2 separate regions of the Homo sapiens genome follow, and region 2 is linked to region 1. The links come from fine-mapping of genetic effects on gene expression. Tissue or cell type: whole blood. Region 1 holds a variant in brackets; the other region holds the start of a gene. All regions are shown on one strand. Distances are from middle to middle.

The links. PIP is the estimated chance that this variant, and not a neighbour inherited with it, causes the effect.
Region 2: NNT starts here. The variant in region 1 is fine-mapped to the expression of NNT in whole blood (INTERVAL, PIP above 0.99).

Annotation. Positions count from the first base shown.
Region 1 is chr5:43,709,008-43,714,007 of GRCh38, reverse strand. No RefSeq gene overlaps it. Among named protein-coding and RNA genes, the nearest start is that of NNT-AS1, 110 kb to the right of the region's middle. The variant C/T (reference allele first, on the strand shown) is at 2,732.
Region 2 is chr5:43,600,558-43,605,557 of GRCh38, reverse strand. It overlaps NNT (nicotinamide nucleotide transhydrogenase), which reads right to left and starts at 2,378. Exons shown (of 22, transcript NM_182977.3): 1 at 2,264-2,378. NNT-AS1 (NNT antisense RNA 1) reads left to right here and starts at 2,328. Exons shown (of 3, transcript NR_073113.1): 1 at 2,328-2,780. RefSeq lists silencers at 2,118-2,337, 2,458-2,547, 2,811-3,030, a cis regulatory region at 4,269 and an enhancer at 4,185-4,354.

The DNA.
Region 1 (5,000 bases):
TTGGTCAATGCCAAAATCTTCAAATAACTTTTGAAAGTCAATTAAAAAAATAATGACTATTCCAAGAGTCATGGCCCCATGCCTCCCCCTCACAATAACCTGAAAAATGATACAGTTCTCTAGCACAAGAATTTGATTTAAAACAATAACAATTAATTTAAAAATCTACATTATATTACGTATTTGAAGATAACTGTTTTCTTTGAAATTTCTTGATTTGGTGAATTTCCACATGCTTTCTCCTCCATTTAAAAATTCCTGTTCCTAACTGGGAACAGTGGTGCATGCCTGTAGTCCTACCTGGCTTGAGGCTGAAGTGGGAGGATCACTTGAGCCCAGAAGTTTGACTCCAGCCTGAGAAATATAGTGAGACTCCACCTCTAAAAAAAAAAAGAAGATGAAGAAGGAGGAAGAGGAGGAAGAAGACAAGGAGGAAGAGGAGGAGGAAAAGAAAATTAAAATTCCTGTTCCTTCCTTCTCTAACCATCTCTTCTGTATCTTCTAGAACACTTCCTCTGCAGAAACTCCCCAGAACCCCCTACTCAGATTTCACCTCTTGCCACAGGCAGTGAGAATCATTCCTCTATAAGCCACTGCCATAACTTGTAAATCATTTGGTTTTTGCACCAAATTGTAATTTAATGTCTTATATGTATCCCATATTATACTGCAAGCTTCTTGAGACAGGTGCCATGTCATGTGTGTATGTTACCTGGCACATGGCACATAACAAATGTTAGGGCTCATCATTGCTACCTGATTATATATTTTACAGATGGGAGACCAAACCAAGTCAGCAGTGGAAGGAACAGAATTCAAAACATTTCAAAACAAGCAATTTCTCACATCTCCTTATAATCTAGAAAATATCATTTACTGCTACCATTAGTTCCTTTTATAGCTTCTTCTAGTTTGAATTGCAACTCCTTACTCCACATCCCTTCCAAAAATCTCATGCTCATGGTCTCTCTGATTCTTCTCCCCTTTGATATCCCCTACCACTATTTTGAATTGAAAAGAACTATCACAGTTTGGGTTTCACCCCCATCTCACAAATGGTTGTTTGGTCTCTCTTCTTTCCAGGGAGTTTTCCTCCCCATCTCATGGAAAATGAAAGGTCCCCATGCGTACCAGTAGCCACTTCACCTTTCTCAATCTGTGTCCCACCTCAACAAGCCCTCTCATCCCACAGGCTCAAGTCCATCAAAAACACCAATGATGCTATTGTTCTATGCTCTCCCTGTAGTATAGTCTAATTTTATGCTCAGATGGTGGTATAAAAATATTAAATCATGGCAATTTTACACATCTGTCTTCTTTGTTCCATTTTGCTCAACTTCATTTCTATGGGGAAAAAAATATTTTTCCACAGAAGCAAAACCCTTATGCATAAAATATAAACCATTACATTTACTGAAATGCCCAAGTACTTGTAATTAAAGAAAAATATCCTTAATTGGCAGAAGATGTAATTCTTGAACTTCCATCTGCCACAGGTTAATTACAGGAAGGTTGTGATGTTTTGTGCTCCAATTTCTCTAGTAAAAATTACAATTAACAGCATACATAGAAATCACTTTTTTGAAAAGATTTCCTGAGTAATACATCAGTATGAAAAAAGTAGATGGGCTACAAATGCTAACTTGTGTTCCTAAAAGAATACTTACCAAAAGAGCTGTGTTTTGACCTTTCTGTGTTTGTTTTGAGATGTGTTCCAACTATGAATTAATGGTTCCTTTCAACTTTTGGCTATACATTTAATACCAAAGCATTGCTGAAAAAAAACTAACAGGAATGAGATGACAGCGCACTTTTCATTCCTCCTAGGGCAGCACTTTTTATTCCTTCCCCCAAACAATTCGCTGTCTCGCTAAATTTCTCAAAGTAAAGATTTCTGAAGCAATTGAGTTAGTCTCAGGAGATGAATTAAATGGCACCTCCTTAACTTTTTTTTTTTTTTTGCTTAGATCAATTCCTTCATAAATTATTTGAATAGAATGCCTACTCTTTTCCTTGTGAAAATAGCACTAATATTCTATTTTCCTACAGAGGCTTTTTAAAATTTCACCCCAAATATAAGTTGTAGTCATAGGAGAAATTTGCCAGAATCTGTTGAGATTACCATACCCTCTACTTCATGCATTTCTTCCTTCCCATTCCACGCTGCATTAAACATCTTGTAATTTCTATTTCATTTAGACCAAAGAAGAATCAGAGGATGTCAGTGTGCAAAGATATCAGTAACCAAGACTAGCTATGACTATGACAATAGGTATCTAAGGAATGCCAGACAGGATGGATGAAGACCAGGACACAACTCACTCCACCAAACTGTGATGTTACGTCATTTACCTTGGTCCCCACCCACTTTGCCTTTGAATGAAGACGTGTCCCCAGCAGTAGGAGAACGAGAAGGAAACACGCCAAATTAAGGTCAAATTTACATCAACAGAGAATATAGAGGCTCAAGAGAGGAATTCACTTAACTTATAGGAAAACGAAGTCATATTTTGGCACATCGAGTTTGTAGTCTTTGAGAAATGAAAATCCTCAGCAAAAAGCTTTTGTCTGACCAGCTGTGAGGTAAGAATGTGCAAGAAGTCAAAGCAAGCGAGGAGGCGGAGCCGGTACTGTCCTGGAAAGCAAAACCCAGAAAGGTGGCGAATCTGCTCCAAAGCTGCCTCTTTTCTGCTCCTAAGGAAGATGCATTCTCAGGATACAGGATTTTGTG[C/T]ATGAGAAAAAAATGGCAATAGCTGCTTACAGAGAGAATGGGTGGAAATGCAAATTATGACTATATAACCAGCAACTTTCATAATTCTATGTAAAAATGGCATATAATTATGCTCTTATTTTCTCTATGAAATTGGAAACATCTCTTCCTCTCATTTTATAAATAAATGGCATCTTCTTGATGAAATTTAACTGCTTTTTTTCCCTTTTACGACTTGCATGCTTCCCTTTTTTTTAACAGAAGTCAACTGAATGGTTAAGTGGACCTTGCCATCAGCCAGATTTCAGTTTAAGTCCAACTCTGCCATTTGCTATTGTAGGATGCACTGAAACCCATAGGTTGTTAATAGAATGTTGCCTAGCACAAAATGAGTACTCATTAACTAGTAGATGCTATTACTATTATCCACCCATTGAACACTTTAAATAAAGGAACAAGGTCTTTCTATCTATAACCTTAAAAAAAGAAAAAAAATTGAGCCAGAATAAAATTCCAGATGAGTCCTGAACAGAAGACAATGAGAAACATATATAGTATACATTTCCCTTCCTCCACCCTGCATGGTTATATATGTATATTTATTTACATAATATATACATACATAATATATATTTTATATATGTGTTTATATATATTTTATATATAAATGCCTTTGTGCTTAATTTATCAAGAGGTGATACACTCTAGAAATGTAAGCATAACCAAAAGTGATTCATTTTGTAGAAAACAGTAACACTTTTCATAACGATGCCACCATCTAAATATTCATCAAGAGTTCATCACTAAAATCCACCCTTTGGAGCAACATGTACAAAACAGTATTCTGGGAAAGACACATTACAACAAGGACCACAGGCAGGACAGATATTCTGACATCCTTACACATATAGTATACCTATATGATTTTTGTGTTATAGTCTTTGAATGTTCTATTGGTCTCATTTACCATAGTGATTCTAATCCTTAAAAAAACACATTTCCTAGTTACTATAGCTATACCCAGTGCTCATGGGGCAGTTACTCCCAATCAGACACAAGGATGTGGACCTGAACTAGGTGTAAGCTTCCATGCCCATATATATCCCAATGGGACAAAACCAGAGCATTAGCTATAATTTAAGGACACAAAATTTTCCATGAGTCAATAAAGCTTTAAAAGGCTCTTTCTAGAAGGAGTGATTTCTGAAGCACAGTGTTCCATTAAACTCAGACTAGTGACAAAACATCCTAAAGGGATGAAATTCTGCTTCATCCCTCTGGGGAAGAAATTATCTCCCTCCTGTCATAGCACAAAGGGGTGATTTAGTGTCACATTCTCCCTTTTCTCTGGAGAGTTTTACACATGACCTTTCAGTTCTAACCCACTGATGCTGCTGCCTCCATGTGTATAACTGGGGACTAGAATCAAAGTCTAAAGAGAATTAACCAGGCACAGGACCCTGCTCCATTAGTGTTAATCACTGTATTTTTGTGAAAAGTGCACCCCCTAACTGGGAGGAAAAAAAAAAGACAAGTCTGGCTGACAATAACTCACTGGCTTTTAAAAACTCAGTTCCAGAAAGGCACTGAAAAGCATAACACAAGGTGGTAATCACTGGCAAAATATGAAGTGCAAAACTTCACTGGTGGAATCTAATTCTATCCCTGACTGTAGACATTCCTGAGTTCTGCTTTTCCCATAGTAAACCAAAAATGAAGTAAGAGAATAGAAAAAAATGGCCTTATTTCAATTTCTAAATGGTCCTTTTCCAAAGGTTTTTATTATTCCCTACATCATATCTCACTGATACTTTGTATTTTTCATATTCCCAAATGCAACAGGAAGGAGGGTGAGAAAAAGTTTATTAGATCTTCATATTCCATCTTTACATAGGGGAAACTTACGCATCCCAAACTTCCTTGCTCTGAGCTCCCACTTCCTTTTCACTTCTCTCTATGGGGGGAAAGAACTAGCCACCATCATCCTAAGGGTCACCTACTTTCCCCAAATCCACATCCCCTTCCTCAATTCTTCTCAAAGTCCATGACAACCACTTCTTCTCCCCACTATCCTATTGCTGCCATGTGGACTCCCCTCTGAATTCATAGTCACCTTAGGCAAGCAAGATCACTTTGACTCTCTTCATTCCAATGTCTTTATGTCTGCTTTTCACAGTGACCCAAACAATGTGGCCTAACTGTCCAGCTCTCTGAAAGTCTGGTTTTGTCTATGGATAAAATATGAAATATCCAGGGACAAACTGGACTCTATATCTTTTAGGCAATTTTT
Region 2 (5,000 bases), 110 kb after region 1:
CACAACTTTTTTTTTTTTTTTTTTTTTTTTTTTTTGAGACGGAGTCTCGCTCTGTCGCCCAGGCCGGACTGCGGACTGCAGTGGCGCAATCTCGGCTCACTGCAAGCTCCGCTTCCCGGGTTCACGCCATTCTCCTGCCTCAGCCTCCCGAGTAGCTGGGACTACAGGCGCCCGCCACCGCGCCCGGCTAATTTTTTGTATTTTTAGTAGAGACGGGGTTTCACCTTGTTAGCCAGGATGGTCTCGATCTCCTGACCTCATGATCCACCCGCCTCGGCCTCCCAAAGTGCTGGGATTACAGGCGTGAGCCACCGCGCCCGGCCCAAAAGCACAACTTTTTAAGCATTGCTTTCATATGTATGTTTAATGTAACTTATATGGGTTATTTCCCCTATTAGATATTAAAATCCTTGAGGGAAAGCACCCAACCTAAAGAGGGAGGATACCACAGATATTTAAGAGAGTCAGCTCTGGATCTGCGGATTGGAAGCCCCACTCTGCAACTTATTGGCTGTGTGACCTTGGGAAGTCACTTAACTTCCCTGTACTTAATTTCCTCATCTTTAAAATGGGGAATAATAGCACCCACCCAGGGTGGTGGCTCACGCCTATAATGCCATCTCTTTGGGAGGCTAGTGGGGAGGACTGCTTGAGGCCAAGAATTCAAGACTAGCCTGGCCAACACAGTGAGACCCCCATTGCTAAAAAAAAAAAATTAATTAGCAGGGCATGGTGGTGCAAGCCTGAAGTCCCAGCTACTTGGGAGTCTGAGGTGGGAGAATCACTTGAGCCCAGGAGTTCCAGGCTGCAGTAAGCCGTGATTGTGCCACTGTACTCCAGCTTGGACAACAGAGCGAGACTTGAAAAAATAAAATAACAGCACCTACCTCTCAGGGTTGTTGCCAGGACTGAGAATATCCTTATCAGCTGTTATATTCACTTTGGTATTACTCTCCCCCAGTGCTTTGCACAACACAGAGGAAGTCAGTATTTTTGACTGAATGAATAGGGCTAGGTGACCTTAAGCCTAAGTACCTATTGAGCACATTTTCCAAGGATTTTCGGAAAATTTCCTTTGAAAAGGAAATGTTTGTGTAGCCTTGTGGAAAACTGATTCTATCACCAAGGTAAGCAGCCTAAGCGCACCTGCTGGAAAGAAGGCAATCCTAAACTGTCTGTTAATAAAAAGTCAAGGTTTACAAATAAAAGGGGTGCAATGAAGAAAAGGGGCACACTTTAAATAAGAAGAGTAGGTAGGCACCTAAGCCCCACGCGCTTCTCCGAATAAGTCTGTCCTACAAGACTCCTGACAAACAGACCACCTAAGGACTGGCCGGCGCCACAGGGTGAATAAAGGACACCGGCAACCATAAACAAGTCACGCTTTTAAAAGCGAGACATACCAGCAAGGACACAATACCCTACTGAGCCAGCTTCGGCTGGCAGGCGCCGTGACCTCACCCAAAGCCACTGGTGTCACGGCTACTGCCACCGGTGCCGTCCCTTGCTCGGCAACTAACTGCCACCCGCTGGCATCTGCACGAGACCGCTATTTATAACCTCCCTAGGAAGCCGATTGGCCACGGCTGCAAATAGTCATTCCGGCTGTTGAGTTTGAACTAGCTCTGCCCAGGTCGCCCTCTCCGCTGTCTCTTCCTCCTCACCAGCCTAGGCCCCAGAAACTTGTACCCACCACCGCCAGACCGCCCCAACTCACACTCACAATTTGTGCTCGCAATCTCCTATGTCCCCAGCCGGACACCCTCTCCGAACTCCCTCAAGGGTCAAGCATACCTCAAGGGCATCCAGCTGCCACCTCTCTGGATGAACCGCCCATCGAAAGTCCTCTATGACCTCCCTCTCCACCACCCCCGATCTTGAGGGCCGAAATGACCCCGTACGACTCTCGCTGTCCCCCAAAGCTGCAAATATCTGCACCTGCACAGCTGCCGCCTCATTCCCTGCCCTCTTCGGGGACCCAGTTCCCAAATCCACCAGCCCACTCCCTTCGACATCGCCCCAGCAGGAGACGAGAAAGGGACACCAAGAGGCACGGTGCTTCTTCCCCACCTAAGCCTGCGGCCTGCGGACACCCCAATGCACCCTGCGCCCGGGACACCGCCGACCCCGCCCCGCTTTGCTCTTTGACAGGTCTCTCTCCCGGCGAGGGCCGTGGTCTTCAGGAAAGGCCCGAGCCCCTTTCCCAGCTGCGCCCTAGGCGCGCGCCCCGGCTGCCCGCACCCGCCAGTGCCGTCGCGCTCACCTGGGCCGGGAGGCTGACAGCCTTGGGCTGTGCCCTGAGGGCCGCGAGAGGACGTCGCGCTGGCAGACCCGGGCTTGGGCCCCGCGGCGCTGCGCCTCCAACCCGGAAGAACAGCCCCAACTCCGCGGCGGCGGGCGGCCACGTGACTGCAGCTCCGCTCCCACCTCGGCCCGCGCCCCTTCCCCGCCCCAGCTTTCTTCCCGCCAGGCCCCCTCCACCCGATCGCCGCGCGCTCTCCGAACCAAAAGGCGACCTCACGAAATGCCCCTTTGAGCTCAAAGGCTAGTTACCCCCAGGGGCCCTTCCACTCTCGGGGACAGGCGAAACCTCTTTGTCTCTGCCTCGGCCTGCGGCCCCCAGCCCAGCCTCCGCGCTTTCCCTCCGCCAGTCCTTGTCAATCAAACCTGGTGCCAAACGCGGCAGCTGAAGTTTTCAGGGACACATTTGCTTCTCCCCTTGAAGAACCAGTTACAAAGCGTGATGTCCTCTCTGGGGTCCCATCAGAACAAAGAAACAGGTAATATAACTCCACTCCGGGTACCTGCCTTTCCTCCAGCTCGCTAGGAAAAATCAGAACTTCTGTAACAGAGAGGACCCAAGGGAAAGGGGCAGGCGGAGAGGGGTTGGTGAAGGGCGGGAATGGGGGGCGTTGATTTTCCATTCTGGCAGGAGAGGTGGAGTTAAATTCCTCAGAAACGATGTCCAGGCTTGAAAAGTAACACACATCTGCGTGCTTGTCTTCCAACATCAGAGCCAGCCTAGAGGAAGCTGGCTAGTGTCACTGCTAGTACGAATATCCCCGAGGCTGGAAAGCATCTGGGTGGAGGTTGTGAGCTTTCCAGACCAGGCCTCGGCTGTTTTTCTAAAACTATTAACCGTAATGACCTAGTCGTTCTTTTCACACAGTTCTGTTACTTATTCTGCAGGTGTATTCTGACTAAAAGTGGGAGGAATAAAAAATAGAGTGTAAAATGGTTCACTTGCCCAAAACTTAATCATCATGAAGTGTCAGTAACGTCATTTATTTCTATTAATTGAAATTTTGATACAAGAAAAATAATTATGAATCTAAAAGGTATAAGCAGAACAGGTATTCCATAACTTTAAAAAGAAATGAGCCGCAGGGAAACCCTTAGTTTGAGAACTTGTCTTGTGATTAACCTACACAGAAGGTCATTCAACTAATGGATTCCCACTGCAGTCCAAACTCACAGACAGGAAATGACACAGCCCCATGTTTTAAAATAATAATGAGCCGTGGTAAGTGTGACCATAGGGACGGTTTCCAGATACTGAAGGTACAATGAAGTGAGATTAGTAATGATCCCACTTAGTAAGGATTTTAAACTAAGTTATTGATTTAAAACTTTTTGTAGGGGTCAGGAGTTGCTGCTTTGTCTTTTAGGGATTAATAATTCGTGGTTCCCAACTGGGGACAATTTAGTTCCGAGGGATATTTGGCAATGTCTAGAGACATTTTGGTTGTCACAATTGGAGAGGGGACCTATCTAATGGGTTGGGGCCAGGGATATTACTGAACACCTCACACTACACAGCCCCTCACGACGAAGCATTATCCAGCCCCAAATGTCAATAGTGCTGAGGCTGAAAAATCCTGGCTTAAATTAATGCTCAGTACATTATTTAATTTTGACTTGCTTATAAATTTATATCACATGAAAACAAACTCAAAGATAACATACTGTTTTTCACTTTTGAAAATCATGAATGTTAGGCATATGATAATTTTAATAACAAGCATATGATTATTTTATTCCGCTTACTTGTACAACATAATTTGGGTGCCATTTCTTCAGGAGAAAACATTTGTCATTTGGAATGCTCTGTTTCAGTCCTTAAGCTTCTACGTATAATTACAGCATATTATTCATAAACGGAGTCCCCAATGAAAATAGGATTAAGTTCCAAAAGTTTGCTTTTAAGTTAGTTGCTTCTAAGTCTTAGACACTGTCTTGAATAAAATTTTTGTAGAGATTTGATATTCCCTATTAAGTTTTAAGGGCCTTTCCCACTCTGACTTCTACTCTTTCCTCCCTGACTAATTTGACCTGCAAACTCTCATCTTAAAATAGTACCTCTCACATATGTGTAAGTTTTCATTACAGATTGTTCTATTATTGAATAATTTTTAAAATATTTTAAAATTAAAATAAACATCAAAATTTAAACCATTTGAAGTTTAGGAGTTTTTGTAGTCACAAATGCTTAAAAATAGTTTTTAATAATTAGAGTTCTAATCTATCAGAAGCAAAAAGGATGAAACATTTACAAGACTATAATATAACATTTGGATCTGCTTTAAAGCCTAAAAACCAGAGAGGTGCCCAGTAGCCAAAAATCAAAACATAGGCTGAACCTGAGAAGACATGTAATCAAAAACTGACCTCTAGTGATGGCTTGTTACCAAAACCCACCATCTAGGTAAAATCAGGCTACAGAAAAGGTAGCTTTAATGTCTTTTCATTGTGGTTATTATGTTACATGGTTATTGGCAATTTATTGTCTCAGCTTCCCTTTTATAAATAATTATTAGTAAAGTGAACAGCCCCAGAGAGATGGGATTCTTAGATTTCAGTGTGTCTAACAATGCAGACACTCGACAGGTTTTAAGGGAACCATCACTAACCTTAATCTTAGCCCTCTTCTCCCAGGCTGACCAATCAAGAGTGTTTGATTTTAGGAAATAAATGTTAACTGACTAAATGAGCTGATGCTA